Homo sapiens: one gene and its partners. The protein of the gene in region 5 interacts with the protein of the main gene of each other region in a biochemical or structural test. Each region holds a gene or a part of one and is shown on either strand. Other genes may lie near its edges.

Region 1 (3,500 bases), about 130 Mb from region 5:
ATGGTAAACAGCCAATCACATTCCTAAGACACAGACTATGGAGGACTGTCCACAGGATCGAGAGGATGAAGAGACCACTCTCAGGGCAGTAAAAGGCAAGGAAGATTTTCTCTTTTTTTCAGAGACAGGGTCTTGCTCTGTTCACATGCACCTTTTATTTTTTGTAGAGAGGGGATTTCACTGTGTTATCCAGGCTGGTCTTGAGCACCAAGGCTCAAGTGATCCTCCTGCCAAAAGTGCTGAGATTACAGAAGTGACCCACGGAGCCCAATCAAGGCATAGATGTTTTAAGGAGAAACTGACTTCAGGAAATCCAGCCTGTAATCCCAGCTACTTGAGAGGCTGAGGTGGGAGGATCACTTGAGACCAGGTGTTGGAGTTCAGCCTGGGCAACATAGCAAGACCTTGTCTCTATAAAAAAAGGAAAAGAAAATTCAAACTACCAAGCAATTTGCAAATTTGATGCTAACGAGCTGCAAACAAACACCCCAAGGGGAGCCATAACAGACAGCCAGGGCCCAAGCGCTGGGGATCCCCGTGCGGAGGGGCCCTCTCTACCTCGGCTTTCAGCACGTGCATCAGGTTGCCCTTCTCCATGTACTCCATCACCAGGGAGTACTTCCCTTCCTCTATGATGACGCCCAGGAGCTTCACCACCCGGCTGTGTCTCAGTCTGTTCATCATCTTCGCCTCCTCCAAGAGGGCCTCGTTGTGCCTGTGGGCAGGAAAGGTGCTATGCTGAGGCTGGCAGAGCCAGCGCCTCAAGAGCCTGGTGCACACCTCCAACACATCACTCCCACGTGCTGGGGTCATGCTTGGGTCTGTACCGATCTCTTCCAGGCACAGGCCAGAAGCGTTAGAAGGCAGAGCGGTTTCTCACTTCCTCACAGTACTCCTGCCCAGTAACTGGCAGTGCATGCTCCAAAAATGTAAATCAATGAAGGAATGAATGAATCAATGAATGAAAAGTACATGAACAGCAGCAAGGTAACCTGAAAAAAGACCGTGCTGGACAGAACGATTAAAAAAAAAAAAAACAGCCTCTCTCAAAACCACTCTGACAAAGGAGGGAGAGAGGTGAAACCACTCTACTGGTTGCTTTAAAGGGAAGGCTCTCAGAACCTCTCAGGAATGAACTGCCTTTTCATTTTTATACTTAGGGCTGGTCCTCACTGAAAATGTGAAGCGAGTGAATAGGTCTGTCTTCACCCATCCTCCTGTTTCCTTTTCATTGTCCCCCCACCACACTTATCTCTTTGTCTTTCTCTATTTCCTTCTTGTTCATGTCTCTTCTGTTACTTACCAGCTGTGAGAGTCCTTCACTACCCAGTCTCAGAGTCCACATCAGCGACAATAACAATCCGAAGAGCCATCGTCACCCTGACATCTTGGCAGGCTCCCTCTCACTCTACCCACCAACGGCTCCGCAGCAGCCAACGGCTCCACAACAGCCAACGTCCCCATCCCGCTCAGAACTTAGCCCACCCACCCCTGCTCCCTACTCACTCAATGCAGTTGGGCCCCTTGTACACTGTTTTCATGATCATGAGTCCCTGGGTTCTGTGGAAACACAGAGACACCTTCCCAAAGCCTCCGCTGTCCAGTTCTGCACTCTCCAGGAAGTCACTGGATTTCATCTTAATGACATTCAAGGACATGTCTGGTTGCATTCTGAAGCTCAAGAACGCCCAAAATGGTACCACTTTTTCCCCCCCCGGCAGAGCTGTACCCTGTAAAGAAAACAGAGAGAAAACCTCAGGGCAAGACTATATATATATATATATATATATATATGTTTTTTTTTTTCTCCTTTGGAGACAGGGTCTCACTTTGTCAGTCAGGCTGGAGTGCAGTGGCACAATCATAGCTCACTGGAGCCTCGACCTCCTGGGCTCAGGCAATCCTCCTCCCTCAGCCTCCTTGAGTAGCTGGGACCACAGGTGCACCCCACCGTGACCAGCTGATTTTTTAATTATTTGTAGAGATGGGGGGGCCGGGGGATCTCACTATGTTGCCCAGGCTGGTCTCAAACTCCTAAGATCAAGGGATCCTCCCACCTCAGCCTCCCAAAGTGCTGAGATTACAGGTGTGAGCCATTGTACCTGGCAGAAAAGATCATTTTTAAAAACTTTTGTTAACATTCCACCACATGCTTGGTGTGCCTTGGATTTCTGAGGATAGACTTACAGTCATCTGATGAGCTATTTTTCATATTTTTAAGAATCAGAGAAGACTATAATATTTATTCCCTCAGCCTTTTTATTTCTGGCAATATGGAGCATTAGAAAATTTTAAGAACCCTCCAGCTATAAAGGACACAAGTATGTTGGACAACATAATACAAACATTCATTGAAATGCATACCAAAACTCCGTGGAAAGGAAAAGAACTCTAGGGACAGAAACAGAGCACCGGAGGCAGGCAGTAGCTCACACAGGGGAGTGCCAACCTCGCCATCCAGAAGTCAAGGTTTAAAGCCCAGCTGAGGTCAAGGAATACAAGAAAAGAAGGTAGAATGAAGAATCCCCCCTTAACACGGCACTGCTCAATGTGCAACCCTTTGATGAAAGGATGAACTAGAAAAAAAGCAGCCCATGGCAAACAAACATATTTGTCTTGGACTGGGCACAAGGTATTAAAAAAAAAAAAAAAAAGTTTGTGCAAATTTATAACCTTGGGCCTGTCTTGAAATAGATACAGACTTTGAATTGAGAGGATCGCCTAAACTATGAACTTTTACACAGGAAGTGGTCACAGGCTGATGCCATCCTGAGGTTATAGGCTAAAGCAAACAACAACCTCAAGCCAGGCCAGACAGAATTCCTACAAATACAAATTTAACATGAGCTCCCTTTCCAAAATTATAAAACACAAAAGAAAAAATTCACTGTGAGACAGACCCTGCAGCTACAGCAAGCAGCACTAGTAAGCACCAAAGAACTTCAGTAAATTAACAACTGAAAGGCATTAGAAAATGAATAGGTTTAAGTAATTATGAACAAAAGAAGGAATCTGAAGAATATAAAAAGAACAATGCAAACTCTAAGAAGAAAATGTGAAAAAGGAGTAGAATTTGGAGAATGTCCATCAGGGCTGTGAAGTATACAGTGTCAGATCTCAAAGCACAGCTATTTGCTTCATCCTTCCTCCCTTCTTTTCTTCCATTCATTCATTTTCCCCAAACTGAAATATAGAATAAAAACCCATGGAGAACCACAAGGAGACACCACTACACAACTACCAGGATATCCAAAACTAAAAAGACTAATACACCAAACACTGGCAAACATGTGAAGCAACCAGACCTCTCAAACATCACTGGTGGGAGTATAAAATGGTACAAACACTTTGGGAAAAGGGCTGGCAAAAAGCTTCGTGGCAAAACAGAAACTCCATGCAAACCAACAGGACACGGACACACTGGTGTGTGCATGTGAATGTGCGTGTCTGTGTTTTGCTTTGAGAGTAAAAGGAGGGCTATGGATGTTTTGTATTCCAGA
Region 2 (2,882 bases), on a different chromosome or scaffold from region 5:
GTGGGAGGGAAGTGAAGCAGTTCTGGGCCTGTTTTTTTCATGCTTTATCATACTGGGCCTGTTGCCTTCATAGATAAGTGGTCCCCAGCACTGCAGATCCGCACAGTTCTGCTATCGATCCAGGCCTTGTTAAGTGCTCCCAATCCAGATGATCCATTAGCAAATGATGTAGCGGAGCAGTGGAAGACCAACGAAGCCCAAGCCATAGAAACAGGTATCTAATATTCATTCTCCTTCACACCACTTCCACTTTTACAAATTTGTATTACCACTTAAACTTTTCTAAAGCTCTTGGCAAGGAAAAGAAATAGAAAAAAGTATAATAAGTGAGATCCTGCTTATAGTATGTAAATACGTCTTAACAAAATGGCTTGCTATGGGACCCCCCAAATATAAAGACAACCTGTAATTGAAAGATCTTGGAGTCTCTTGTAACTACACCTGGTTTAACAAATACTGAGTGCATACCATTTATCTAGTTATATGTAAAGAATACTGGAAAACTTGAACTGTTTTTGTAACCCATTTGATTAAAGTATTCAGCTGTTTATGGCTACGGAATTTGGAGTCAAGAAGCTTCTGCTACAGATTTTAAGAAAATTAGTGGGGAGAATTGTGTATCTAGAAATGGACAACTTGATTCATCCTCTTGAATTTTCTAGAACTTCTTAATTTTATTGTAGTGTTTTGGTAATTGGACATTTACAAAATCTTTCAGCCCTGATCCAATTTATAGAAAAAGGCGTGAATTTAACAGATTACAGCATGACATTTCCATAATTAATAGTGGTTGTTTGCCATTTATAGTTTGGAAAGTAACATATTGAACTAAGTAAAATAATAATCGTATGTTTGTTTCTGTCTACAGCTAGAGCATGGACTAGGCTATATGCCATGAATAATATTTAAATTGATACGATCATCAAGTGTGCATCACTTCTCCTGTTCTGCCAAGACTTCCTCCTCTTTGTTTGCATTTAATGGACACAGTCTTAGAAACATTACAGAATAAAAAAGCCCAGACATCTTCAGTCCTTTGGTGATTAAATGCACATTAGCAAATCTATGTCTTGTCCTGATTCACTGTCATAAAGCATGAGCAGAGGCTAGAAGTATCATCTGGATTGTTGTGAAACGTTTAAAAGCAGTGGCCCCTCCCTGCTTTTATTCATTTCCCCCATCCTGGTTTAAGTATAAAGCACTGTGAATGAAGGTAGTTGTCAGGTTAGCTGCAGGGGTGTGGGTGTTTTTATTTTATTTTATTTTATTTTATTTTTGAGGGGGGAGGTAGTTTAATTTTATGGGCTCCTTTCCCCCTTTTTTGGTGATCTAATTGCATTGGTTAAAAGCAGCTAACCAGGTCTTTAGAATATGCTCTAGCCAAGTCTAACTTTATTTAGACGCTGTAGATGGACAAGCTTGATTGTTGGAACCAAAATGGGAACATTAAACAAACATCACAGCCCTCACTAATAACATTGCTGTCAAGTGTAGATTCCCCCCTTCAAAAAAAGCTTGTGACCATTTTGTATGGCTTGTCTGGAAACTTCTGTAAATCTTATGTTTTAGTAAAATATTTTTTGTTATTCTACTTTGCCTTTGTACAGTTTATTTTACTGTGTTTATTTCATTTTCCCAATTTGACAATCGTATTTTAAAATTGAAACTGATGGAACATTCTTTCTTGGTCTTCACCATCTGACAAATTGAATGGCAAGAGGTGGATTTTGCCAGTTTCTTTTCACTGATGCAGATTTGTGTTAAGATAGTACTGAATGGAGTATTTATAAACTGGCCCTGAGCATGCATAAAGCATCAGTATCTGACCTTTTTTTAACCTTCTAGGAATTTGAAATAAATGTGTTTGTGTTGTCTGATTAGATGATCATTGGTGTCTTGCCACAATGTTTAAAAATTACTGTACAGGAAAGTCACAGCAAAGATAGCAGTTGTGACTGACATGTAGGACTTTCACAGTTGTGCCACATTTTTGCCTAAAATTTGGGTTATGACATTTTTCTTGGTTCTTATCTGAAAATTTCATCTGTAACCTTTCATGTGTGTTAAGAAACACTGATCTGATCATTTGGGATTTGCTGAGGCATTTGTGAGTCTTCCTTATAAACCTGATGAGCAGATCTCAACTATCTAGCTTGTGTGTCATCAGAAAGGTTTATCCCTTTGAGAGTATCAAGTCCTCAGTTAATGATTCTTGCTTTCATCCCTCCAGTATTTGCTGTGGGAGCTCGTTTTATTCTTTAATTTGGAATTCAGTAATTTTTCTTCTTTATTGACGAATTCCTCCCCTCACAAAACTGTTCTTTCCCACCTCTCTCCATATCTAATTCCTGATTCTTGTTATTTTTAAGTCATAAATGTAGCCAGTCATAAATACATAAATGTTAACCTTCGGGTTGCAACCTTGTCTCTTGCAGTTTAAGGTAATGGATATTGTAGCCCATTTGAATTTTCTTCACTCTTATTCTCGTAATTCTGGAGTTTCTTCAGATTGTGGTGTATTTTATTGTGCTCCTATGTAAGATGAAGAATTAACTATTAAAATTACATTTTCAACATACAAAAGCTTTTGATGACTGGTAACTGGTATCCTTCCAAATAAATGCATTGCTTGGTAACAAATGTTAGCTTAATTCAGAATGAAATAGTTAACAACCCTAATATTGTAAAATTTGAAAACTGATAGCAGCTGTCATTTATAACAATTCTTGGGCTGTTTAAAGGGTACATTTGACTATAGCTAAGGAAATTGAATCTCACTTTAAAAATGAACCACACAAAACTTCAAGAAACGAAATAGAAATCAACATTTACTGCCCGTAATATTGCTCATGGTTATAGCTAGTATCACATAGTGATTTACA
Region 3 (3,500 bases), on a different chromosome or scaffold from region 5:
ACATATAAAAAAGTTGTTAAACAACTTGCGGTGGCTCACGCCACAAACCCAGCACTTTGAGACGCCGAGGCAGATGGACGGCTTGAGCCCAGGAGCTCGACACCAGTTCAGGAAACATGGCAAAGCCCTGTCTCCACAAAAAAGTAGCCAGGCATGGTAGTGCCAGCCTGTAGTCCCAGCTACTCGGGAGGTTGGAAGGATCACCGGAGCCCGGCCGTCGAGGCTGCAGTGAGTCGTGATTGTGCCACTGCACTCCAACCTGCATGACAGAGTAAGACCTGTCTCAAAAAACAAAAAACCCCAAAAACCTGGATTAGAGCAAATATGTAACAATATGCAAAACAATTTTACTTTAAGTAAAGCAAAAATGTTATCAATAGCTTCTAATTATGGCAACGCCATCTCTTCTGTTCTTTGAAAACCACAGTCAAAGCAATCGGAATGTTAATAGTTAGCTTTCCGTATCAGCAGGTTCCAAACACTCAAATCCAACCAGCCTGGGGTGGAAAAGACAATATTTGTGGGATGCAGAACCTGGAAATACAAGGAGCTGACTCTTCCCATGAGCGGGTTCTGCAGCAGCGCATACCAAGGGATGACCATACCTTAGCGTTCCCTCCTAAAACTTACAATATCAATGCTTAGCTTTCTTGCCAGTTCCTCATCACTTTTCAGTTGTTCTTCCATCGCTCTTCGCCTTTTTTCTGCCTGTCTTTTTTCCTCTTCTTCCTCCTCTGCCAACAACCTCTGTATGTATTCTTCACTGGCTTTGTTTTCTTCTTCCTCGCTGGCCCGTCGCTCTGCCGCCACCTTAAAAGTGATTAATAAAGAGCAATCCTTCTCTGAACGTTTTGGTATACTTGCAATATTTCATAACAAGAATAGAAAAGTAGAAAAAGAACAAATTGGCAGAAATTTAAATGATCTCAAATGAAGTACAAATCTGGAGAAGTAGATTCCTGCAAGATAGCTGTCCCATCTCAGCCTCCCAAAGCACTGAAATTATAGGTGTGAGCCTCCACACCTAGCCTGAGATGTATTACAAGTGAAAATTATACACAAAATTTTGAAGACTAACAAAAAAAGAGAAAAATCTCTATTTATGTATAACTTCATATGTAATTAAAACATAATGCTTCACTATAAACACTGCTTTTTAGGTACTTTTCCTATTTAGGAACTTCACAGCTAGCCCTTTAACCTTTCCTCATCTAAACTCACACTCTACCACCCTTTTACTTTAAGCTCAAAACTTTGGGGAAATAAAAATATATCCTGGTATGGATTAAATTAGGAAAAAGAAGAATTAAAAAATTTTCTTCATATGTAAATGCTTAGGGAACACTATCACATAAGAGCATTAATTATGTAGAAGTAAATTACAGCAAAAAACAAAGCCCTTATAAAGTACATTAAAATTATCCATATTTTGGCCAGGCACAGTGGCTCACACCTATAATCCCAGCACTTTGGGAGGCCGAGGCGGGCGGATCACAAGGTCAGGAGATCGAGACCATCCTGGTGAACACTGTGAAACCCCATCTCTACTAAAAATACAAAAAAATTAGCCAGGCGTAGTGGCGGGCGCCTGTAGTCCCAGCTACTCGGGAGGCTGAGGCAGGAGAATGGCATGAACCCGGGAGGTGGAGGTTGCAGTGAGCCGAGATTGCGCCACTGCACTCCAGCCTGGGTGACAGAGTGAGACTCCATCTCAAAAAAAAAAAATTATCCATATTTCAAGATATACTAGTTATATAAGCACAAAAAACTAAATTAAAATCTGAAACTAAAAACACAGCAGAGAAATATTCCAAAAAAAAAAACTATTTAGCACCTACCTTGCTTATTTCCTCTTCATATTCTCTTCTCAGTTCCCCAGGTTTACTGAGCAGACGAACTGGCTGATAGTCATCAGCTATTTCATATCAAAAAAGAAAATAACATTATAGGCAACACAATTTTATGGTAACTTTGGTCTTCCATTAAAACGAAAAATTAAAATATACAACTATTAATAACTGCAGCAATATCTCCTTTTGGAATTCCATTTTTAACATTTATTTTATTTATTTATTTTAGATTTATTTTATTTATTTTTTTTGAGACAGAGCCTTGCTCTGCTGCCCAGGCTGGAGTGCAGTGGCACAGTCTCGGCTCACTGCAACCTCCACCTCCCAGGTTCAAGCGATTCTCCTGCCTCAGCCTTCTCCTGAGCAGCTGGGATTACAGGCATGCGCCACCACACCCAGCTAATTTTTTATATTTTTGGTAGAGTCAGGGTTTCACCACATTGGCCAGGCTGGTCTCGAGCTCCTGACCTCAAGTGATCCACCCGCCTTGGCCTCCCAAAGTGCTGCGATTACAGGTGTGAGCCACCACGCCCGGCCTGGAATTCCATTTTGTGAGGCCAGAGGTTTAGGGTTTTGGGTTTGAAATGGCATATGAATGCATATACTTAACCCTTCCTCTAAACTCCATTAAAATAACAGTAAAGGAATTTTTAAAAACTGTAATCCTACAACAGCAGAAATTAGCAGAGGAGGTTAACTGATTAAAAAAAAATGTTTTTTTTTTTTGAGACAGAGTCTTGCTCTGTCACCCAGGCTGGAGTGCAGTGGTGCAATCTCAGCTCACTGCAACCTCCGCCTCCCGGGTTCAAACAATTATTGTGCCTCAGTGTCCTGAGTAGCTGGGATCACAGGCATGCCCAACCATGCCCAGCTAATTTTTGTATTTTTAATACAGACCGGTTTTTGCCATGTTGGCCAGGCTGGTTTCGAACTCCTAATGTCGGGCAATCTGCTCACCTCAGCCTCCCAAAGTGCTGGGACTACAGGCGTGAGCCACCGTGCCCGGCTCCAGTTAAAAAATTTTTAACAAATTTCTAGAAAATGGGAAGGCAATGAAATAGAGATAATTGATACAGCAGAAATGAAGGAAAAGAAATCCTTGAAAGGGAAGACTACAGCTGAGGTAGAATTAGAAGGGAATCTGCCTCCTATTTGCCTAGAGAGAGGCTCATAGAGTCCAGAGTGAGTAACCGTGGGACTGAAAACAGAACTCGAGATTTATAAGCTGTTAAATCAGAATCCTCGACTTACCGGCATTTCTCCCTGGATATGGGTGCAGGTGCACACACGCATATTTCTTTAAAGAAACAGATCTAGAGAGAGCCAGAGCAGCTAATGTAATAGGTGGTGACCCAGAGCAAAGTCCTCTGCGATCGGGCAGTTAGGGATGGCAAAGCACAAAGGCCAGGTTTCCATCGGCTTGAACTCAACGTCTGCCCATCACCAATACCCTTCCACATACACAGAGCTTTTCTCCTGGGCCTCATTCTCAAACCTAAAAGCTAATCCAAGGATCGTCAGACATTTGAAATACATCTGCAGGACTAGGGAAACAGTAAGCTATACAAAGAGAAAAAATCATCACCCTGGAGTTGAAAGATAATTCTGGGTCAGAAAATAACCTAAATGTGGGTATGTATCCTCAACAAA
Region 4 (3,500 bases), on a different chromosome or scaffold from region 5:
GTGGATGGAGAGGCAGGCAGGGGACAGCCCCTTCTCATGCCCAGGCTCTGAGCTAAAAGATACCTTGGGATCCTTCCAGCCTTTGGGCTGGTTTCGACTGATCTCCTCCCAGGCTGAGGGTCATTTGCCAAGCCCAGGCCTGGCCAGCCCAGGACTTCCTTTGGGGGCGTCACACCCCAGGGCAAGCAGCTGCCCCTCAGAAGGGGCTGCACAAAGGCCCCCCGCGGCCTGGCAGAGTGGGAGTGGAGCCCGCTGTGCGTTCCCCCAGCTGGGGGCTGAGGGCGGCTGGCCTGGATGCTGGGGCTACCAGAGTCCACTGCCCTTGCAGATGGCCGTCACCCTGAGACCACCTCACCACCGTGCGGGGAGGAGGGGCCCTGGGCTGGCCGCCGGCGCCAGCCTCACTCACCTCTGGGCAGTGGTGGTGATGGCATCGATGACCTCCATGATGCGGTGGAGGGCCGAGTCCGTGCCGATGGTCATGTCGGTGCCGCAGAAGTCGTTATCGATGGAGCCCACTAGGCCCGCGATGTTCAGGTGCGAGTAGGTCCGGGCTGTAGTCTCTGAGATCTTACCTGGGCCAGGAGCAGCAGGAGGACCTGGCTGAGGCTCCACTGGCCCCACCACAGGGCCAGAGACCCCTCTCCTGCCACCCCTTCCCCCGCATCCCAGGCGTGCAGCCCGGCAGGGGCCCCGGAGTTCCAGGCTCAGCCTCCTCCTGCCTGGAACCCTGTGGCAGCATGGCTGGATCCGCTGGGGCCAAGTGCAGACGGGGGACCTCTGGGGTGCCTTGCAGAGCGGCCAAGGCCTCACATCAGGGTCCCCCACATGAGGGACATGGAACAGACATGGCTCCGAGAGGCCACTTTCCAAGCAGCAATCTCGGGACTCTGTGTCTTATGTCACCCCAACTTCAACTCTATTTCTGCAGACTGTGACCATGCATGTCCAGAATCTCACTCGGATCAATCACAGAGAAGACTTGTCTACGCAGCGTAGGGTGAGCAACACCGGCCTCCACCAGCCCCATGCACTGCCTGGGTGCCCTCCCTCAGGCTTGAGCACTGACCTCCATCTCTGGGAGACATCTGAGCTCGTGCTGGCAGACACTACTCCTCCCCGGCCAACGGCCAGACAGCCCCTCCTCTGCCTCGGGGCACCCAGGGATCCCTCGTCCCTCTGTCCTGCCCATTCCCACGCCTGGCAGCAGCGGCAAAACAAAACCCCAGGGCCTACAGTGCGCCGGGCACAGACCCACCTTCCGCCACCAGCTCCTCCAGCAGGCTGCCCCACTCGCTGCGGAAGATGTTGGCACCTGTGAGGCTGCCATCCCCGCCGATGACGCACAGGTTGGTGATGCCGTGCTGGACCAGGTTGTAGGCCGCTGCCCGGCGCCCCTCCCTGGTGGTAAAGGCCTTGCAGCGAGCGCTGCCAATGATAGTGCCGCCCTGCACAGAGGAGACCAGAAACTTCAGGAGAGATGGCAGGCGGCAGACAGCCCCTGGGGATCACCAGAGGGACCCCAGGACTGGGCAGCAAGGGGCTGGCAGACCCTGCAGAGTGAGAGGCAGAAGCCCCGGGGTCTCTGGAAACCTGAGGTGGCCCTACCTCCCTGGGCCTCTCTCCTTGGAGAGACAAAGAGGAGGATGATGTCCGTCCGGTCCTGGGCTTGGGAAGCCCCAAGGTAATAGAGTGGAAGGCTTTGGAGACTGGAAAGCACAGTACACACACGCATAGGTTGCCACACACATGTGCGTGCACACGTGCACACACAGGCCCTGTACCAACTCAGGGAACCGGCCAGGGCCTCCAGGGCTCAAGCCTCAGCAGCTCCAGGTGCGCTCACGTGGCCCCTCATAGCCAGCCTCAGCCAGGGCTCCCCCAGGACCCAGCACGGCCACGTCTCCAGGTCCTCCTGGCCCCTGGCAACCCCATGACCCTGCGACCCAACAATTCCATGGCAGCAGATGACAGGGTCGGCCTGAACCTGAGTCCCTGTGCGATGGGGCACGTGTGTGTGTGACTCTGAGTACATATGTCTGTATGTTTCTGTATCTGTGTACCTGTGTGCGCATCTGTGTGTCTACGTGTGTATCTGTGTATTTATGTGTCTGCATGTGTCTATCCATGTGTATCTGTCTCCATGTCTGTGTGCATCTGTGTGTGTCTGTGTGCGCGTCTGTGTGTCTGTGTGCACGTCTGTGTGTCTGTATGTGTGCATGTCTGTGTGTGTCTGTGCACGTGTCTGTGTCTGTGCGCGCCTGTGTGTCCGTGCACGGGTCTGTGTGTGCACGCATCTGTGTGTGTGCACATCTGTGTGTGTGTGCGTCTGTGTGCATGTCTGTGTGTCTGCATGTGTGTGTTTGTGCACGTGTCTGTCTCTGTGTGTGTGTCTGTGTGTGCAGGTCTGTCTCTGTGTGTCTGTCTGCGAGTCCAAGTGCAACATGCATCCGCGTTCCCAGGCCTCACCAGCTGGATGATGTTGGAGACGCTCAGCCAGTTGGCCTGCTTGATGTTCTCACCTCCCTCCACGAGGCCCTCATAGCCCTGAAATCAAGAGTGGGGCAGGCATGAGATAGGGGACCCCATGGCGGCCGGCAGCAAGTGGTCTGGGAGCAGGATTTTCACCCCACCAGCAGAAAGCAGGACCAGGGTGCTGACTGTGAGGCCCCACCATCATCCCAGGGCCTGGGTAACAGGGTCCGGGTGCCCCCTAGGGGGCTCCAGACACCCTCTGCACAGCTGGTGAGTCCGTGTGTCCCGGGGCGTGACTCCTGTGGCAAGTGCTTTGGTGCAGGGGCCTGTCTGAGCTCCCTCACCCCACCCAGATCCACACAGGCAAGTTCAGCGTCCCGAAGGCCCCAGCGGAGCCCGCCATCCAGCTCCTGAGGGTGCATCCTAGGTCTGCCTGTTCTGAACATCCTAGAAATGACACCACAGAGGCTGCTGTGCGTGGCTCCTTCTGTCCCCACTGGAGTCCTCCCAGGCATGCGGCCGGCGGGGTGTGCGGCGCGTGCTCTTGCTGTGTGGCGGCCGTGTGAACAGCCCAGGCTACCATCTGCCCGCCAGAGCGGGAAGCTGAGAACACACACACCTCCCTACAGGCGGGCCCCCACCCGAGGGAGCTCCTGGGTCCAGGGGACCCGAGTGGCCATCGCTCGTAGGGCCGGCAACACCCCAGGCAGGGGCTCCAGGCTCCGCGTCCCGCCACGCCGGCCACACTGGGCCTTCCATCCAGTACCGTGGATCTGCCTCTCATGCGGTTCTACCTGGGATTTCCCAGATGGCACCTGCACAGCCTCCGTGCCACGTGCCCGTTTCCTACTGCACGGCCAGCCCTTTCTTGTTGTTTGAGGGGAGGGACACTCATGACTGCATTTCACTAAGGGTGTGGAGAGGAGAAGGGCGGCCTCCTCCGTGCAGCCCCGGTCCCTCCATGGCATCAGCAGCCTTCTCCAGGCCGTGAGGTGAGGCAGTGGAGCAGCCATTCCTCGGCCAGG
Region 5 (3,500 bases):
AAGTATTCAAACAAATGAACAAAAAAGATCGCCCAAGCCTTGTGTCTTGGCAGACGTGTAGCAATGATTGCGTTCTGTTGAAATTTCCCCTTTGCAAAATCTAGAGCAAAGATAAGGCTTTTTTTCTTCTTGTGCTTACTTTCAGTTCTTTATTGAGATGCACCAGTATAAAATTCCCTAAGTAACATCTGGAATTCCCCAGTGCTAAGTTATTTGACTAGCAATTGAGCAACAGCTATTGTACTTTTTGTTCTGGTGTGTAGACATTTAAACTGCGAAGTGCACCCTGGACTTTCCAAGTGGGTGTGGTCAGGGTGAGCTGGAATAGGGCTACTCATTATACAAGTGAAATCGCTGCAGCCAATAGACGCTGGAATTTTTCACATGAAGTTTCAATTTTATGCCACCTACTCCCTTCCTCATTCACCGCAGTCTCATATCCTCAAATGCAAACTTGTGAATCACCCCCTCCCCAAACAGATATTGCCTTTGAAGAACCCTCCTATCAGGGGAAGGATTAATTTTTTTTTAAAAGGTGCTAATTAAAATCAAAGAAAAAGTCATTTGTTTTCCTCCCTCCCTAAATATCTTTTCTTCCTTTTTTAGAATCTTAAGGAGTTTTCTTGAAAGTGAAGAAACAAAAGGACTCTGAGTCTAAAAATGATTTCCCAGAAAATGTTACCAAAATGCACCTGCTTTTGTAGTTTTATTTGTAGTGTGGCTCCTTGTTGATTTAAATGACATGTTTACAAAATAAGTGTTTCCTATTTATATTCCTTTTTTTTTTCTAGTGGAAATAGAGCATTTCCTTTCTTAAGGAAATAAAGCTAAAAGTCAGTTAATTCTCTTAATAAGGTGTTCCTCTTTCTACCACATTTTTAATTCAGCAGAATCTTTGTTTCCAACTCCCCCAAAGTTGACTCCATCTCTTTTTGGTAACAAATGGGAGATGATTAAAACCACAAATTGTCAGGCACATAAACCCCGTGATGATGACTTCACATAATTACCTACCTCTAAGTATCACTTAATTTAATGCCAAGAACAATGCAGATAGTAGCTATCCCCAGTTTTCTTTCTATCTATGTTTCTAAGAATCAGTGTTTCATAAATCTAGGCAAGACGTTGGGGTAATGTACAAGAGCCCCCAGAATCAAAATTTAAAAACCCATGTCCACCAATCACTCTAAGTTACCCAAGTCAAAAAAAGCCAAAGTTAATGTACTTGGCTTTTGAATGAAGTTAATTAAGTTAGTGTTCTTATCGTAATCCTTGTCAACAAGGATTTTCTGCCCTTGGACATATTATTTCTATTAGGATGGTTTGGGACTGTCACAGATATAAGGACCTGAGATTCCTGCTCTTATGTAGACTATGAGCATTTAATTGAGCTTGTACAGTCAACTTCCTTATTGTCATAATTATGCACATCCATAGAGCAGAATTTTGTGCCTGCATGAAACAGTATGCTCTGACATTCCTGTTGATGCACATATTCTTACCCAAGGGAAATGATTAAAAAACAAAACAGTAAAGCTTGGAATAGGAAATAGCTACTAGTGGTAAAGGCCATTGGCAGAACAGCACAGACAGGAAGGAATTCAGTGACTAAGAACCCCTAAAAATAATGAAGGTGAAGTCTAAAATTCATGCTAAAAATCTCAGCTATCTGTCTATTTCACCTTGCAGGGCATAGGCAATAGAACCTAGGTCAGAGAGGAGGAGGAGACAAAAGAAGTTCTTCATGTCTTCAACAGCCATTCACTGGTTAACCCATAAAATGCTACCAATTCAAGAAGTGTAAGAACATCACAAGCATTTTCTAATGACAGTGGGAAACAAATGTACTACCAGTTTTCACACCATTCTTTCCTTTTGAACTTAAAGGCTTTTAACATTTCCATTACGGGCCAGAGAAGGGTATTTTACAGATGATTAGACATTTGCAAGAATTAGAAAGAAATCACCTAATGGAGGTATGGTGTTTACAAATGCATTCTCCAAGCCTCAATGTGCTCTGCAATATACACAATCAGAAAATATCCTTAATAAATAGATTCACAAAACAAGTCTGCTATTATCACATACCCCGAATAGAGATTCTATATAAAGGTCTCAATACTAAATCTCAAGATTGATTTGAGTTTGGGCTTGTCCTATTAAAGCTTCATGAATGGGGATCCAGCAGGCGGGAGCTATCACCCAGGCAAAAGAAACACAACAGAACAAGTCTTACCGTTCGTTTTCAGCGCCACAAGCTTCCGGACTTCTCGACACCAGTTGAGTTTCTTCTGGCTTTCCAGGGTGGCCTGGATGTTTCTGTCGATGAGGGCTTTGTGGATGATCTCCCGAAACTGAGGACAAAACTGGCAAGTTCTGAACATTTCCAGTGTGTATCGGTGCATGGTTTTAAAATGATGAATGATCCCATTAGTAGGTTTAAAAATGTCTTCTGGAGTTCTCTCCCGTATCTTCACAGCTTTCCGCATATTGCTCAAATACAAAGCCTGAGGAAGGACTTGTTCAGCCATTGTGCTCTCCAACACCTGAAAAGGAAAGGAAAAAAAAAAAGCCATTCTATTAGCCTGACTTTAATACGACTCCTCTATAGCTGCCTGCAGGAAACCCCAGTGTTTGATCTTGTCATTACCCTGATCTGTAGGCAAAAGATCTTAGCACCTCTACTCCCGGGATACTAGCTGGCCCCAGAGATTAACTCACACTGGACTGTTTTAAGTTACATCACTTTAAAAGATTAGCCTAAACAAGAGAAGGAAGGCAGAGAGTGGGTACTGAGGAGGAGGGGAATAACCCGTGTTTTCAGTAATGTTTGTCAGGGAGCCAACCCTGTCTGTCAGCAACAGGTACTGCTCCTCAAAACCAACTTAAGCTCCCGTTTCATTCTGAGGCCACCCTGAACAGCACTGGATTTGGGGAGTACTGGATGCCAGTTAAGGGCTCAAAGTAGCCCTGACAAGTCTGTAGCTCCTCCCCTCAGACCACCACCAAGCACTCCTGCTCTTGGGCAAACTCTTGAGTTATCACTCCCTCCCTATGCTGGAAGGACAGTAAAATACTTTATGAAAAATCTTGCAATTTTATGCTGTCACTTAGGCTGCTGGTTGGTGTTTCCTCTTTAGCCCCAAAGAGAAGTATTTATAAAGTGTTTAATCATGAAGTTTATTCTGATGTTTATAAAGAGTTAAAACCGAATGTTTTCTAATCAATAAAAAAGTCCATTTCCAGCAAGATGCTTTGCAATTTTAAGAGCAGTCAGCATTCCTTCAGAACCTCCGCACCGGACTTCATATCAGAATAAGAAACAGACTAACAATAGGCTAGGCATGGTGGCTCATGCCTTTAATCCTGGCACTTTGGGAGGTCGAGGGAGGAGGATCACTTAAGCTCAGGAGTTTGAGACTAGCCTGGGCAACACGGTGAGACCTAGGTCTCTACGAAAACAAAAAATGAAAAACCGCAAAATAATAATAGAACAATAA
Region 6 (3,500 bases), 1.3 Mb from region 5:
ACTATATAATTATCATAATCTCTTTTTCCACTATGAAAGAGCCACATATCTAAACAAATAACTATGAATTCTGTTTTCCTCTAAATGGGCTAAATAACATTCTCCCCAGCTATGCCTTTTTACTACTACATCTTTATTCTATTTAAGCCTCTTCAAATTATAAGGAAAAAGGCTAGAATACACAGAATATAAATGCAAAATGACAAAAAATAGTATTATTTATTCTAGTAAGCTCATTGTGAAATCTTTAAAAATAAAGACTAAAAACAGAGAGCCCTGTTTACCTCAGTAATACATAATCTCAGGAAAAGATGATTATGAATAATCTATTTTTACTGCACTTATAAGAAATGAGTTTGCTACAGTTAAAAACTGGATTTTTTTTTTTTAAAGGAATTCCTGCTTGCAGTCATGGTAGAAGTGAGAAATGCTGACTTAGCCACAAATAAAACTTCCTGTTGGCTTTCTTGGCTTTTTGTGGCAGCCTGGCTGAACAGTATTACTATAAAACTTTCTGCTATTCACCTATGGGTTGGGACTTAAGCTTCAGGTGTTTAATTTCTTGGTCTTTTTCTTCAATAGCTCGATGAAGGAGTGCTTGTAATTCTTTCTCTTTCCGAACCAATTCTTCCAGTAATCTGCAGAAGAAAAATATATTGTTTGACAGGAGGTGACACAGGGTGACCTTCTTTTTTTTATTTTTATTTTTTTAGATACAAGGTCTCTCTCTGTTGCCTAGGCTGAGTGTAGTGGCCCAATTATAGCTCACTGCATCCTTAAACTCTTGGACTCAAGCGATCCTCCCATCTCAGTTTTCCAAGCAGCTGGGAATACAGACATGCACCACCATGCCTGGCTAATTTTTTTTTTTTTTTTTTTTGTAGAGACAGAGTCTTGCTATGTTGTCCAAGCTGGTCTCTGAACTCCTGGCCTCCAGTGGTCTTTCCACCTCAGCCTCTCAAAGCTCTGGGATTATAGGTGTGTGCATGTGCCACTGTGCCAGGCCTAGGATGACCTTCTAGACATGAGCTATAATAAGCACATACACCCCTAATTTTATTGAAATACAGATACTGGTCCAGTGCCCCGGGGGTGAGTTCTGAGACTGTATTTATAATGAGCTCCCAGATGACACTGATGTTGCAGGTTCACAGACCCTCAGGTCCAGAAGCTAAGCTTTGGAAGACTGTGCTTGCCGACAAGAATTCAAAACCTCCACCACAGATTGTCTGCCAAAATCTTCAGAGATGTGTCCTGATATTTCTTGTTATGACCATAAATGTCAAAGATATAAATATGGGATACAGATATTAACAGGCCTATATTTTACATGTATGGACCCCCATTAAAAAAAGTTGGCAAATGTGCATAATTTCATAATCAATGCAAATCAGAAAAGTAATCACTTTTTGTAAACTATGAAAATTTGAGAAACAGTCATAGGTGAGGTCGCCTAGAATATCTGGCATATAACAAATTCTCAGTAAATGTTCACGGTTGTTGCTACAATTGTGATTGTTACTATTATTCCTCTTCCTTCTAAGGGGGCGGGGGTGAAGTGGGTAAAAGGATAGCTGTGTTCCTGGTACATTCAGTTCCTAGTTGGCATCTGATGCAGTCTCCAAAGAAACAAGGAGAAACTGTGATATTCATACCAAAGTTCTTACCCATAGAAGGTTCACTATGCAACTGAGAGCCAACTGGTAACCTACTCACCATTTCCAATAGAATTTCTCAAAGAAAACATTCCAAGTTATGAAAAGAGGTGCTCTAATTTTTTAGAAAAGTATCTTAATGTAAGTTGGATTCAGAAATAATAATTTAAAATATATCGTTATTAAGATTATCAGGATAAATCGTTGCATAAACTACAGCTCTTAACAAACTCTATTTGTTTCATTTTCTGAGTATTGATAGATTTAACTCAAGAGTTTGTTTCTGCTTCACTTGACATAATCTGAAGGCAGCATCGTGCAACTGACAGATCTGGGCTTGTGTCCTGGTTCAACCCTGCACTTCCTGTGTTAACCTTAGATAAATTACCTAATGCCTCCAGGCTTCAGTTTTCAAATCATTTGTAAAAAAGAAAACTAAAGCTTCCAGAAAAGATTATTGTGAGCATTAAATGAGACAGCATAGGTACAGTGCCAAGTCAGTGTCTGGTCTTTAATAAGGGATGTTCTGTTCCTTGCTACCTCAGTCCCTGGAAAAGAGCCTTTCCAGGACTCAGTGGGAAGGAAACCTTCCCAGACCCCCAGGCTCGACCCCATTCCCACAGGACATAAAGATGAGATCCTCAGAGAGAAGGGATCACAGCAGAGTAGGTAGCAGAGGTGGGACAAAAGTAAAACACAATAAGAGGTAGACAGAGAAGGTGGGTGGAGGAAAATAAGTTAACAAAGACAGCTGCAGGGTAAGTGTGGTGCACAATGAGGTGGATGAAGCAGCATGAACTGAAAGCTAGAAGAGGGAGCACAGGGTCTTGGAGGGAGGCTTCTTATCTCTTTCAAAACAAATATTATCCAAAGAAATGGGCAGGAAGCTCTGTGTGAATGTTTAAGTTGGCAGTTTTTTGATCTGGTATGTATTTTTGTCCTACTTGCTAATTTATACGTATAAGACAGTGATGGTATCTTCTTACTGTTTTCTCAAGGAACACAGTGATGTTTTCTAGAGTTTAACCTATGTTTGTCTAGACTATGTAATTTCTTTTTATCTTTTGTTAAAGTGAATGAAATATGGCCTGAGAAGGACTCCGTACTTGCATATTTGAGTCCTCGTGGACAAACTATAACTTAACAGGTAGACAAGATTGAAAACCTAACTTAGGAGTATGCGTCTATAACAATAGCTGAGTCTTGGCTAATCCCAGGAGCCATACTTCAACCACTCATACACTGCTGAGTGTTCAAATAAGGTGAACGCCAACCCATAACAAATCCAGCTCTTTCTGCACACTTCTGATTTCTGTACGTCACTTTACTTTTATTTTCTATAAATTTGTTCTGGCCACGAGGCATCCCTGGAATCTCTCTGAATCTGCTGTGATTCTAGAGGCCACCTGATTCACAAACTATTTTTTTCTTTTTCAATTAAACTCCATTAAATTTAATTTGTCTGAAGCTTTCTTTTAACACCTTAAACACCAGAACTTCAACACTGGAAGCAGAGTATTGACAGCCCACCTCATTTGCTCCGAATCCAGCTCTTAGAAGTATTTATCTTAAGAACAATCCAGTACATCAATTTTATTTTTATTTTGTGTTTATTTAGCAGGGCAATATTTTGAAATCAAGGCAACTGTCTGCCTTTCTGTTCCAAAAAAGTATGGCAGGATCTGCCATGAGGTCAATTTTTAACCTTGGATGGGCAGGGGTGATGAGGTGGATTGGTGGGTAATTCCAGAACTGTAGGATGGGGAAATTAAATAAACAGGCAGCTCCTCTTGAGACAGGTTTTTGTTTTTGTTTTTGAGATAGGGTCTTGCTCTGTCACCCAGG
Region 7 (3,500 bases), on a different chromosome or scaffold from region 5:
GGTTCTGCTCCTACAGATTAGGCTGACAGCTCTTGGACTTATATTTATTAATATTTGTGAAATATGAACTCCAAGGTTCTTGAGCTGTTCCTAAAGCAAGTTTCCAGCAACAGCTTTTATTAACAACTGTTCATCTTGCGATGTGCTGTGCCTTATGAACGATGTCTCGTCAGAACAGACCAGGGGTGGTACTGGGTTTCCTATAGCTTCTCTCTGCATCTACAAAGCAGGTTTTCAAACACATTTTACATGTCGAAACCAGTGTCATAAGGAAAACATTTGTGACAGAAAAACAATGCTCAGTTTAATCTAAGTTACCAAGCAGAAGGTAAAAGAACTAGTATCCGCTGAGTCCCCAAACCTCTTTCTTCTAATTCATCTGAGGATTTTTTGTGCTTCTAGAACAAGAATGTAGGCAGGCTCCCAAATGGAGAGGTAAACATGACCGCGTTGTTTGAAACTACTTCATTAATTTGTAAATCAGAACCAAAAAGCTCTGGCCCTCCCACTTCTCTTAGCTGACCCTCCTCCCCACTTACGGATAAACAGACTTTAACTTCCCTAACCCAGAAACACTTCCACCAAAAATGTATGGTTATACCTTATCCTAAAAAGGCACCATGCAGGCATTTAAGACTGAACCAGTGAACTCTAAATATGTAGTAGTAGAAAATATCACTAATCAAAACTTCCAGCATCAGATGGTACAAAACCCCAAGAGGACTGGTGACATGTACCCCGGGATGGCAACCCCAGCTTCTGGCAACCCCACAGCCCAGCGGGAGCTTCAGCTCTGGTCAGGTGCACGGCTGCCAAAGTCTGCACACCTTGGGGACAAGGAAAGGAGACACTTGCTTCATTGTGCTATTCATGACCCAGAAAAGGTCCTGGCTGGCTTGAAGGACCCGAGAGACAAACACTGGATGGGAGGAATGAGTGTGAAACAAGAGGTGGAGAAGCTAGATTATCTTCCACAGGAGGCGGCAGAAGCTCCAGGAAGTAGCCGAGAACCAATACGAACTCGACCGTGTGACAAACAAGGTTAACAGTAGGGGAAGACAGCTTTGGCAAGAGCCCAAAGGGAAGAGAAGGGCTGACCTGGGGACCCACTTCCCCTGTCAGAAGTGACCCTGTCCCAATGCCATGGCTCATTTTCAGGTCTGTTGAACAGGTAAGGTACAGGAGTCATAGATTTCACGTTTAATATGTAATGGAAGCTCTGTAACATGAGACAGATAGCAAGCACGGACTCTGCTCACTGGTCGATGATGGAGCGCTGCAACACCTGATTCATCATGTCCTCTTCATCAACATCATAATCCTAAGGGCAAAAAGAGACATGCAGCCTCAGCAACTGTTTCTAGATGCAAAGACTGGCTTTCAGTAGAAGCAGGACAGCCTAGCAACTGGATCCGGAGCAGGTTGCCAGGGACCGGATCCCCAGTGCAACTGTTTGTGATGCTAGGTATGTAACTTTGGGAAAATTAATCTGTCTCTGCTGCCTTCTCTTTTTTTTTATTTGATGGAGTCTCGCTCTGTTGCCAGGCTGGAGTGCAGTGGCACAGTCTTGGCTCACTGCAACCTCTGCCTCCCAGGTTCAAGTGATTCTCCTGCCTCAGCCTCCCGAGTAGCTGGGACTAACAGGCGTGCGCCACCATGCCCAGCTAATTTTTATGTTTTTAGTAGAGACAGGGTTTCACCATGTTGGCCAGGATGGTCTCAATCTCTTGACCTCGTGATCCACCCGCCTTGGCCTCCCAAAGTGCTGAGATTACAGGCATGAGCCACTGCACCCAGTCTGCTGCCTGATTCTTAAATGAAGTTAAGGATGCCTCCCTTAAATGGAGATTGAGAAACCCAGACAGCACACGAATGGAGGCTGGCACAGACCAAGTGCTCAGAACATTTGTAAGTCTGTCGGAACAGAGCACGCAGATGCACTGAGCTGAAGAGTTGTTTCTGAGAGGTGGAATCAGTGCACAGTACAGAATCAGATTTTTAGAGCCATACAATACAGCAGAAACTATAGCGCAACTAGCCCTCTTTAATGAGTCATTTTTAGGACTCATTTTTAATGAGTCATTTTTGTTAATGTGACACAGATGAATGTAATTCATCTGTGTCACATTAACAAAAAGGGCAGTTATTCTGAAGTCTGAGTTTCAGACACTGTCAGACTGAGAAAAAATATTCTTTATGACAATTTAGCAGAGAGCTTTCTTTCTTAGATACTGAAATTCAGCCATCAAGACCGAATACCACTCTAAAATCCTAACTTGACATCTATATATGTAAGTAAGAGGTTTACTTGATATAGTTGGCCAAAGTTACCTACTACTATAATGGCAAGACAACAGTGTGCCCCTTTGAAACCATCCAGCTCTAGGGAAAGAATATAAACCTGACAGCCGTATTTGGCTAGTGGATATATGCTATTTGACCTGAAGTATTTTTGAAGATAATTAAAACCTGTGAAACCTCCTGTGAAATTTTCCTGTCCTGCTTGGGCATGGGGGGTGGAGAAGCTAGGCAATGCTGCGCCTGCATTTCCATAGGAAAACAAGGTGATGGCAGCATAACGAGTCAGGCACCACCTGGCTTGGAAATCCTCAGGAGGATCATTTCAATTATGGTCCCCATGGACATGCGAGATTGAGCCTCCCAAGTCCAAATTGTTGTTGTGTGTGTGTGTTTTGTTTTTTTTTTTTTTTTTTGAGACAGGGTCTCATTCTGTTGCCCAGGCTGGAGTGCAGTGGCATGATCTCAGCTTGCTGCAACCTCCGTCTCTTGGGCTCAAGAGATCCTCCTGTCCCAGCTCCCTCAAAGTAGCTAGGACTACAGGTAGGAGCCACCACACCTGGTTACTTTTTGTATTTTTTGCAGAGACAAGGTTTTCCCATGTTGCCCAGGCTGGTCTCGAACTCCTGAGCTCAAGCGATCCACCTGCCTCAGCCTCCCAAAAATGCTAGGATTGTAGGTATGAACCACTGCACCGCACCTGTCCCCAAACCAAGTTCTATAACAGGCAGAAATTATATAAACCACAAGAAAAGTAGACAAAAATTTGGTGGCAGGGCTAGGAGATGGAAAGAGCAAGTATCACTGTCTCTGTCTCAAAGACTGACCAGATCATCTTCTTGTTTGTTTTGAGACAGTCTTGCTCTGTTGCCCAGGCTGGAGTGCAGTGGCACGATATTGGCTCACTGCAACCTTGCCTCCCAGGTTCAAGCGATTCTCCTGCCTCAGCCTCCCAAGTAGCTAGGATTACAGGTGCCCACCACCACACCTGGCTAATTTTTTTGTATTTTTAGTAAAGACGGGATTTCACTATGTTGGCTAGGCTGGTCTCGAACCCCCGACCTCAGGATCCGCCCACCTCGGCCTCCCAAAGTGCTGGGATTACAGGTGTGAGCCACTGCGCCCAGCCCAGATCATCTTCTTAAATGTCACTCTGGGCCGGGCGTGGTGGCTCACGCCTGTAATCCCAACACTTTGGGAGG

Evidence for each region.
Region 1: of the proteins of TNFAIP3 (region 5) and RIPK1, one has a biochemical effect on the other in vitro, tested with the Homo sapiens proteins (2 studies listed by BioGRID).
Region 2: the proteins of TNFAIP3 (region 5) and UBE2N form a complex in vitro, tested with the Homo sapiens proteins (one study listed by BioGRID).
Region 3: the proteins of TNFAIP3 (region 5) and RNF168 form a complex in vitro, tested with the Homo sapiens proteins (one study listed by BioGRID).
Region 4: the proteins of TNFAIP3 (region 5) and PFKL form a complex in vitro, tested with the Homo sapiens proteins (one study listed by BioGRID).
Region 6: the proteins of TNFAIP3 (region 5) and MAP3K5 form a complex in vitro, tested with the Homo sapiens proteins (one study listed by BioGRID).
Region 7: the proteins of TNFAIP3 (region 5) and RNF114 form a complex in vitro, tested with the Homo sapiens proteins (one study listed by BioGRID).

Annotation. Positions count from the first base shown.
Region 1 is NC_000006.12:3,074,994-3,078,493, reverse strand, and holds part of RIPK1 (receptor-interacting serine/threonine-protein kinase 1), read right to left. Parts: intron 1,731-3,500; coding exon of another isoform or gene 1,671-1,730; coding exon 1,507-1,670; intron 716-1,506; coding exon 559-715; intron 1-558. UniProt on the Homo sapiens protein: Serine-threonine kinase which is a key regulator of TNF-mediated apoptosis, necroptosis and inflammatory pathways.
Region 2 is NC_000012.12:93,408,066-93,410,947, reverse strand, and holds part of UBE2N (ubiquitin-conjugating enzyme E2 N), read left to right. Parts: intron 1-73; coding exon 74-214; intron 215-868; coding exon 869-909; 3' UTR 910-2,882. UniProt on the Homo sapiens protein: The UBE2V1-UBE2N and UBE2V2-UBE2N heterodimers catalyze the synthesis of non-canonical 'Lys-63'-linked polyubiquitin chains. This type of polyubiquitination does not lead to protein degradation by the proteasome.
Region 3 is NC_000003.12:196,486,769-196,490,268, forward strand, and holds part of RNF168 (E3 ubiquitin-protein ligase RNF168), read right to left. Parts: intron 1,916-3,500; coding exon 1,839-1,915; intron 811-1,838; coding exon 631-810; intron 1-630. UniProt on the Homo sapiens protein: E3 ubiquitin-protein ligase required for accumulation of repair proteins to sites of DNA damage. Acts with UBE2N/UBC13 to amplify the RNF8-dependent histone ubiquitination.
Region 4 is NC_000021.9:44,310,053-44,313,552, reverse strand, and holds part of PFKL (ATP-dependent 6-phosphofructokinase, liver type), read right to left. Parts: intron 2,548-3,500; coding exon 2,470-2,547; intron 1,449-2,469; coding exon 1,259-1,448; intron 576-1,258; coding exon 410-575; intron 1-409. UniProt on the Homo sapiens protein: Catalyzes the phosphorylation of D-fructose 6-phosphate to fructose 1,6-bisphosphate by ATP, the first committing step of glycolysis.
Region 5 is NC_000006.12:137,870,259-137,873,758, reverse strand, and holds part of TNFAIP3 (tumor necrosis factor alpha-induced protein 3), read right to left. Parts: intron 2,927-3,500; exon of another isoform or gene 2,847-2,926; intron 2,725-2,846; exon of another isoform or gene 2,577-2,724; coding exon of another isoform or gene 2,532-2,576; coding exon 2,237-2,531; intron 1-2,236. UniProt on the Homo sapiens protein: Ubiquitin-editing enzyme that contains both ubiquitin ligase and deubiquitinase activities.
Region 6 is NC_000006.12:136,561,978-136,565,477, forward strand, and holds part of MAP3K5 (mitogen-activated protein kinase kinase kinase 5), read right to left. Parts: intron 639-3,500; coding exon 526-638; intron 1-525. UniProt on the Homo sapiens protein: Serine/threonine kinase which acts as an essential component of the MAP kinase signal transduction pathway. Plays an important role in the cascades of cellular responses evoked by changes in the environment.
Region 7 is NC_000020.11:49,949,897-49,953,396, reverse strand, and holds part of RNF114 (E3 ubiquitin-protein ligase RNF114), read right to left. Parts: intron 1,322-3,500; coding exon 1,256-1,321; 3' UTR 1-1,255. UniProt on the Homo sapiens protein: E3 ubiquitin-protein ligase that promotes the ubiquitination of various substrates. In turn, participates in the regulation of many biological processes including cell cycle, apoptosis, osteoclastogenesis as well as innate or adaptive immunity.